Homo sapiens: one gene and its partner. The protein of the gene in region 2 purifies or fractionates together with the protein of the main gene of each other region. This does not show direct contact. Each region holds a gene or a part of one and is shown on either strand. Other genes may lie near its edges.

Evidence for each region.
Region 1: the proteins of BAHD1 (region 2) and MIER1 purify together in Homo sapiens (co-immunoprecipitation; one large-scale study listed by IntAct). This does not show direct contact.

The regions. Positions count from the first base shown.
Region 1 is NC_000001.11:66,973,490-66,977,311, forward strand, and holds part of MIER1 (mesoderm induction early response protein 1), read left to right. Parts: exon of another isoform or gene 1-2,029; intron 2,030-3,105; coding exon 3,106-3,233; intron 3,234-3,822. UniProt on the Homo sapiens protein: Transcriptional repressor regulating the expression of a number of genes including SP1 target genes. Probably functions through recruitment of HDAC1 a histone deacetylase involved in chromatin silencing.
Region 2 is NC_000015.10:40,443,871-40,447,692, forward strand, and holds part of BAHD1 (bromo adjacent homology domain-containing 1 protein), read left to right. Parts: exon of another isoform or gene 1-1,531; coding exon of another isoform or gene 1,532-1,673; intron 1,674-3,822.

The DNA of each region.
Region 1 (3,822 bases), on a different chromosome or scaffold from region 2:
CTTTATATTCTTATAGTTATAATTTGAGGATTTTATTTAACATAATCATTTATCATTTCATGTTGATAATATCAGTCATGTAATTTATACTCCAAATAGCTTTATAATTACTTACAGATTTGTTTTGGGGCTTAATTCTTATAACTGAAATTAGGTATGATTTTTAATAGTAACCATATAATTATATAGAATAGAAAAATGTGTTGTTTCCATGAGCAACACATTAGGACAACAGATTAGGACAGGCAGAATTAAAGTCTTGGAGATTAAATGTAGGAAATTAATTCCCAGGCTTATGATTATCACATTATTTTTAGTTAGTAGAAATGACAAGGGTATTGGTTTATGTAATTCCTTAAAGATAGCTTCTAAGTTTTGTGTCGTAGCTTGTCCAGGACCTTGTTGAAAGTACCTGGGCTTATGTCTGAGGCTCTGAATAGTCTTCTGCCACAGCTCTCTTTTTATACATTTGGATGTGATTGGATTGTATCCAGTTGATTTTTTTGACACATATTTAATATTTTTTGTTATTAATAAAATATTTACAAATCCTGTGGGTTCATTTCTTAAATTTTGTCGTGCATTAACTAGTTTATTCTTATTTTTATTATTTTTTTTTTAAGTGGGAACTGGGCAGTGAAGAGCCCCACTCCCAATTAGTTCATTCTTAATTATTTTGTTGAATGTTGGCAGTTTACCGCAGATAACACTAATAGAGAAATGTTTAGTTTTAGCATTTAGGATAACTTAGAAGACAATGTAATTAGTTTCAAAAATGTATACCCCTAATGTTGTGTTCATATCATCTGATAACCTCAAATATAGTTAACATTCAAGAAAAGGAGTGCATTATGTGACTGGCCGTGTATGTTTTTGATTAAAAAAGAAAAAAGTTCGTTGTTTCATGGTTGAAAGGGACAACATTTTTGGATGAGGTTTTTTTTTTGTTGTTGTTGTTGTTGTTTTTTAACACTTCTGCTTGAATTAAAACACTCTTAACCAAACCATGCTGAATTACCTAAGGAAGGGACCCCTGGAATGATAGCTTATGTAACAAGCAGCAGCAACAACCCTGACCAATATGATTTTTTTAAAGGAGTTAAGAAATTATAGGTGACTTGAAACTTAGAGCCAAGTAACATAAGTATTAAAAGTATAACCTTGATTTCTCATAAATATTTGGGACAGTGGCATTTAAATGTTACAAGGTAGAAGTCAGCTGACCTCTACATAATACACTAAATTACTCTAGTGCACAAAAAGAGGACAGTAATTCTTTAAAAGGGAGACGAGTACTCTAGTGAGAATATCGAGTTTGTTTTTATGTCTGGAATTAAAGTTCAGATCTTAATCATAAGTTCTATTTTGAGGGCTTTTGTTGAAGATTTTTCATAATCTTAACTTTGCATGCCCCAAAATGACTTTATCTTTTTGCTTTCAGTAAAGTACAGTTGACTTAGTTCGAATCTATCTAGAAATAAGATCCTAGAGGAGACAAAAAACAGCTTGAGAGGATGATTTTTTTTAAAGTCCTGATTGCTGTCAGTCTCAGAGCAATATGGATCAGAGCTGTACAGTGCAAACGGGAAGAAAGCAAAATATATGTTGGGTAAGGGAGGGTATCATCAACATTTGTCCTTTAGGTGCAATCAGTGCTACAGAATATTTACTTCAAGAGCAGAAATTTATGGGATAAAGAAGTATATTGCATCCAGAACACATACAGACACTGGATTTCCTTTTAAATGGTCAGTATTGCCGGTGCAGTGGCTCATGCCTGTTATCTCAGTACTTTGGGAGGTTGAAGCATGCAGATTGCTTGAGCCTGGGAGTTCAAGAACAGCCTAGGCAACATGGCAAAACCCCATCTCTACAAAAAATAGAAAAATTACCTGAGTTTGGTGGCATGCAATTGTGGTCCCAGTTATTGAGGGTGCTGAGGCAGGAGGATTGCTTGAGCCTGGGAGGGCAAGGCTGCAGTTAGCGGTTTGGTGCCACTGTACTCCAGCCTGGGCAACAGAGCATGACACTATCTCAAAAAAAAAAGAAAAAGAAAGGAAAAAAGTTATCAGTATTTTATTTATATACATCAGCCCTAAATCCTCAGTATTTTATATATATACATCAACCCTACCACCAGTTCTCCCGGCTAAGTAACAAAAAGGAATTCTGTCAGCATCATTTAATTCCGTAGGCATTTAACATTATGTGAGGGGAGCCATTCAGTTGCACAAATAGGTACAGCACAGTAAGCCGCAAGAGTAACTTAGTAAACAAAGCATTAGCATTATTATGATACTTTTAACTCACTGTGGCATCTTCCCAGACTTTCTAGAGAGTAAATTAACTGAGTCTGGGTTGCTGTTGGGACTAGTAAGAGAATCTTTCAAAAGGGAATTTAAAGATACGCTCCCTAGGTACCCGTACTCTGTGAGTAAAAGTATTAGCAAACTGTTTATAACATTTATTTTAACATGAATGCCACTTCCAGGCCTTTTTTTTGTGTGTGTGTGTGTGAGACTGAGTCTCATTCTGTCACCCAGGTGGGAGTGCAGTGGTGTGATCTCAGCTTAATGCAGCCTCTGCCCCCACCCCCACCCCCTGCTGGGGTTCAAGTGATTCTCCTGCCTCAGCCTCCCGAGTAGCTGGGATTACAGGCACCTGCCACCATGCCCGGCTAATTTTTGTATTTTTAGTAGAGATGGGGTTTCACCATCTTGGCCAGGCTGGTCTTGAACTCCTGACCTCGTGATCCACCCCCCTTGGCCTCCCAAAGTGCTGGGATTACAGGCGTGAGCCACCGTGCCCGGCCAACTTCCAAGCATTTTTAATACAGGAATATATTTTTCTAGTAAATTAGGATGATGGTAGCATTTTAAAAAGCACAGTGCTGTATATCTGAAGACCTGTTGCCAATATATTATTTCTCTTAATAGATGTTTAGAAAGAATAGCTTTCAACATAGCTGCTACACTGTTGTATGTTATATATAGGATTATATTTCAGTTAAGGACTAGCCAAATTTATTTTCAAACTTCAGATGTTTATCATGAAGTAACTTTGTTAAAAAGGAGATTCTTAAAAGCAAGCATTTGTTTCTTACAGGTCCGAACAAGGTCAGTTGGTGAATGTGTAGCATTCTATTACATGTGGAAAAAATCTGAACGTTATGATTTCTTTGCTCAGCAAACACGATTTGGAAAGAAGAAATATAATCTTCATCCTGGTGTAACGTGAGTTAATTTTTTCCTTAAGAGCTATATATACATTTTTGCTAAGCTTTTCTAGATTTTTCTTGAGTTAATTATTATTTTGATAATCTTGCTTTTATATACTTGATCTTAACCAGAAGGCCGAGAGTGATAAAATCTTGCTTTTATAATACACATTAAACTTTACCATCTATTATATCTTCATAAATAAGGCATTTAGACTTTTCAGTGTCTTATGAAATATTGTAAACTACAGTTCATATTATGTATGAGACAAGCATATCATTAAAGCAAGATTTAGAATGTATATTTTTAATACACTGTTGAGAAGAAATGGATCAGAACAGCTGTGAAAGCATGTTTTTCTTAAATTCAGTTCCATTCAGTATAAGCACATACAGTTTTAATCTTCTTTTTTTTTTTTTGAGATGTAGTCTCAAATCTGTTGCCCAGGCTGGAATGCAGTGGTGCAATCTCAGCTCCCTGCAGCCTCCGTCTCCCGGCTTCAAGCGATTGTCCTGCCTCAGCCTCCCGAGTAGCTGGGATTACAGGTGCCTGCCATGACGCCTGGCTAATTTTTGAATTTTTATTAGAGACGGGGTTTCACTGT
Region 2 (3,822 bases):
TCCCTAGCCATACCATGCACATTTTTTCTTCCTGCATCTTCACTGCTGCCGCTCCCCTTCCTTTACTCCCACTTGAATCCCACTTGTCCTTAGTCTGGTTGTTGCTCAGACCACTCCAGGCCAACATAGTCATCCCCGCCTGAGCTCATGACTCTGGATTTTCTAACGTGGTATCCTCTTGAGTGGTTTTGTAGGTTGGAAATTTCTTAAGGACAGGAACAATATGAGTGTTAAACCTCTGTGTGTGTGTGTGTGTGTGTGAATATTCTGGTATTTCTTGTACAGTGCTGTGCACATCATTTTTGTTGAGTGAATAAATGTGGTTGGTTGCTGAGTTAGGCAGGAACAAGGGGGAGACCTTCCTTTCAGCTTCTCCAGAAATGCTCATATTGGAGTCCTTGGAGATTTCCAGCCCTTTCTGTCAAAGGCATATGGATAGGGCATGTTTGGGGTGCTGTAAATGGGAAATTTAACTGCTGTTTCTAATATTTCTGCTGGTGAAGAGTCCTATGGATTGCTTATGTGATACCATATAGACATTGGAAAAGGGCTGTAATCCTGTTTTCCTCCTACCTCACCGGACCACCATTCTTTCTACCCAGCTTTGCTGCTCTTATGCAGTTTTCCTTGTTGTTCATGCTAAATGAATCCATGTTTTATCTCTTCTCAAACCGGGTGCAAATGAGGGAGAAAACACAATTCTGAGCACAGAAAAGAAAAATACTCCTGGGTCTGGCCCATAGATGGGACTTTTGGGGCTGGTTTGGAAGAGGTGTTTATGGGGGCATCACCAACATAAGAGGCACAATCAGCCCCACATTGGACCCCTCATAAAGGAAAGCTACAATCCCTGCTCTCTCAGGCTTCTGTTTTGGTTCACCATCAACCCTGGACCATGGGGGAAACGGGAAAGAGGACTGGTGACTGGTTAGAGGCCAGATAGTGAAAAAATATATTCTGCATCCATCCCCTTTCCCCCAAACCTCCCTTTTGTGCCCCAGTTTGATGATTAATGGACCAGCATTTCCCTTCTACGCGGGAAGGCCACCCCTCACAGTTGCCATGGCAATGCAGACCGCTCCCCCGTCAATTAAAAAAAAAATCCCTACTACTTCTCTCCTCCTTCTACTGTAGCAGGAGAAAAGCTACCTCAGAATGCATCTCCTGGGCTCTCTTCTCAGCTCCTTTAGCTGTGTTTGCTGTGTGTCCTAGAACACAGTCCTTCCTCTCTTTCTGGGGATTGCCTGAGTTTCTTCACTCTGAGCAAATTGTGCCCCTTCTGGAGCCAGCAGCCCCTGGAACACTTATATCAAGAAACAGAGAAAATTTCTGTTTATTTATTCATCCCCGGTGCAAATTAAAAACTAGAGAGAGCTCCTTTTGGGTAAAAAAAAAAAAAAAAAAAACAACCCTTTCACACCTTCTCTGGTTAGAGGTATAAGTTGGGGCACATTTGACATCCAGAAAGGAAGTTTTAGTAAACCTGGAAGGAATTCAGCCTCCTAGCATACATACTTCAAATTGGAGTTCTATGGGGAATTCTCAAAATTATTTTCATTCCTCCTCACCTCTCTGTTCCAGCATCCAGGAGGACTTGTGTGTTTTCATTTTATCTGTTCTTATTCCTCTTGGCCTTGCTCCGGCAACATCTGGCCTCAGCACCCTGTCGCAAGGTGAGTCATTAAGGAGAATAAAAACCTTAAGGAAAAAAAGTCTCTGGAGTTGAGAAGTAGCCTGTGTTGAACTAAGGCTGCCAGGCGAAGCTGCCGAGTTTATGGAGCATTATACGAACAGCCCCGACATTAAAGGGCCTCCTTTTTATGAATGGGTTGTGAAGAATGTAAATAAAGCAGCATCTCTCAATGGGGAAGCATTTTACATAAGCAGTACTACCCCGACCCAAGTATTTATGGGAATTTGCTAGCACAGTCTGGCAAGGCTCACTTCCTTTGTGAACTTGCCATTGTGCTGGGGACTTTGGAGGGACAAGGAGAGTGTGCTTCGGTTCTGAGGGCAGCCCCAGCACTCCCACTCTGCAGGTTTCCTGGCGTTGACTTGATGGGCCAGCTCATGGCTGGAAATGCCTGTTAACCCTGAAGTGACAGAAAATACCATGCGCAGTCAAGAGCTCATGATAATTAGAGATAGAGGCTCCTGATCCTGGGGTCTGGAGATGGTGTAGCTCCTGACCCCTCAGGCTGCTTAGACCTCCACAGGACAGAGGACAGGGAGTTCTTGGATGATGAAATCTTGCCCGGTTTTATGGGAGGCACCTAAGTGGTGTAAAATGGGCTGGTTTGAATTTCAGCTCCTTTATGTTCCCCTGCCCACCTCCTGGTACTGCCACTAATGATCAGTAAAATGGCTAAAAAGGAGGAGGAGAAAGAGCACCAGCAGCAGTGAGGCTGCACGTGGTCTGCTCAGGGCCAGACGGCCTGACAAGCACCCTCACTGAACACCGGCCCAGCCCTGGGGTTCCAACAGGGGTGTTGGTGTCCTGCCCCAGGTGACTTGGTAAGCAGGCCCTGGAGTACAGTCACATCCAGGACTTTGTGTTGTGTCCCTGTGGGTGGGAGTGGGGTCATCAGATTTCATTTTTCCCAGTGGGAAACACCTGCAAGGATGGTTATTCACTTGACTCAGTGTCCCCCCAACACAAAAAAATAACATTGTCTTTTAAGATCCTCTGCAGGCCCAATCCACCAGGAGAAAAAAAGGGGTTTGTCTCTCAGCCTCGCTGATTTGAATTGGGAACTTATTTCTAAGCACTATGACCAAGTTAGCTGAATGAAAAAAAACAGGTGATTTCTTAGTCTTGTTACCAATGTCAGGCAGGAACTTGGGTCTCAATATTTTTTCTTGCATGTGTTCCTTTTCCAGTGGGTTTGGGGAAAAGAGGTGCTTTGACCTCCTGTCTTTGGGTAAGGAGGATGGGACCTGTCTTTCTGCCGTTCTCTTGACCCCAGGGATCTCACCTGGAGTGCTGTTGATGGCTCCTACTTTTATTCCATCTCCAATGCCTTTTGGGGACTCCTAGCCTCCATCAGTGCAGCTTTTTCAGCTTCCTGCGTGCAGTGGAGAGGGGCAGCCCACACAGACCCTTTTCCAACTCTGGTTACCTGTCCACAATGTTTAGGAATAATTGTTAATCACATTCTCATGTGGCCAGGTGGTTTAAAGGTGAATTACTGTTTTTTAGAGGACCTATGTAGAAATCGTGGGAAAGGTATTATTAGGGTGCCGCTTGATGCCAGGAGATCCTAACAAGTATGCCAGAAGGAGGGGTGAAGTCACGTTTCCACCATAGTCAGGGCCAGCAGGGCCTTCCTCAGTAGTGAGGGGTGTCTCCTGCTTTGTGCCTGGAGGGGTTTCCACATTGGCTAGAATGTAAAAAAGAATTATAAAAATGATTGAGGCCAGGTGCCGTGGCTCACACCTTTAATCCCAGCACTTTGGGAGGCTGAGGCGGGTGGATCACTTGAGGTCAGGAGTTCAAGACCACCCTGGCCAACATGCTGAAACCCCGTCTCTACTAAAAATACAAAAATGAGCCGGGTCTGGTAGCATACACCTGTAATTCCAGCTACTCAGGAGGCTGAGACAGGAGAATTGTTTGAACCCAGGAGACAGAGGTTGCAGATCGCGCCAGTGCACTCCAGTCTGGGCGACAGAGCAAGACTCTGTCTCCAGAATAAATAAATAAATAAATAAATAAATAAATAAATAAATAAATAAATAAATAAAAATAAAAATGATTGAATAACTGAGAGATGATTTCCAGAGAAATTGAAAGGACTTGAATTTATTTGGCCCAGAGGGAGG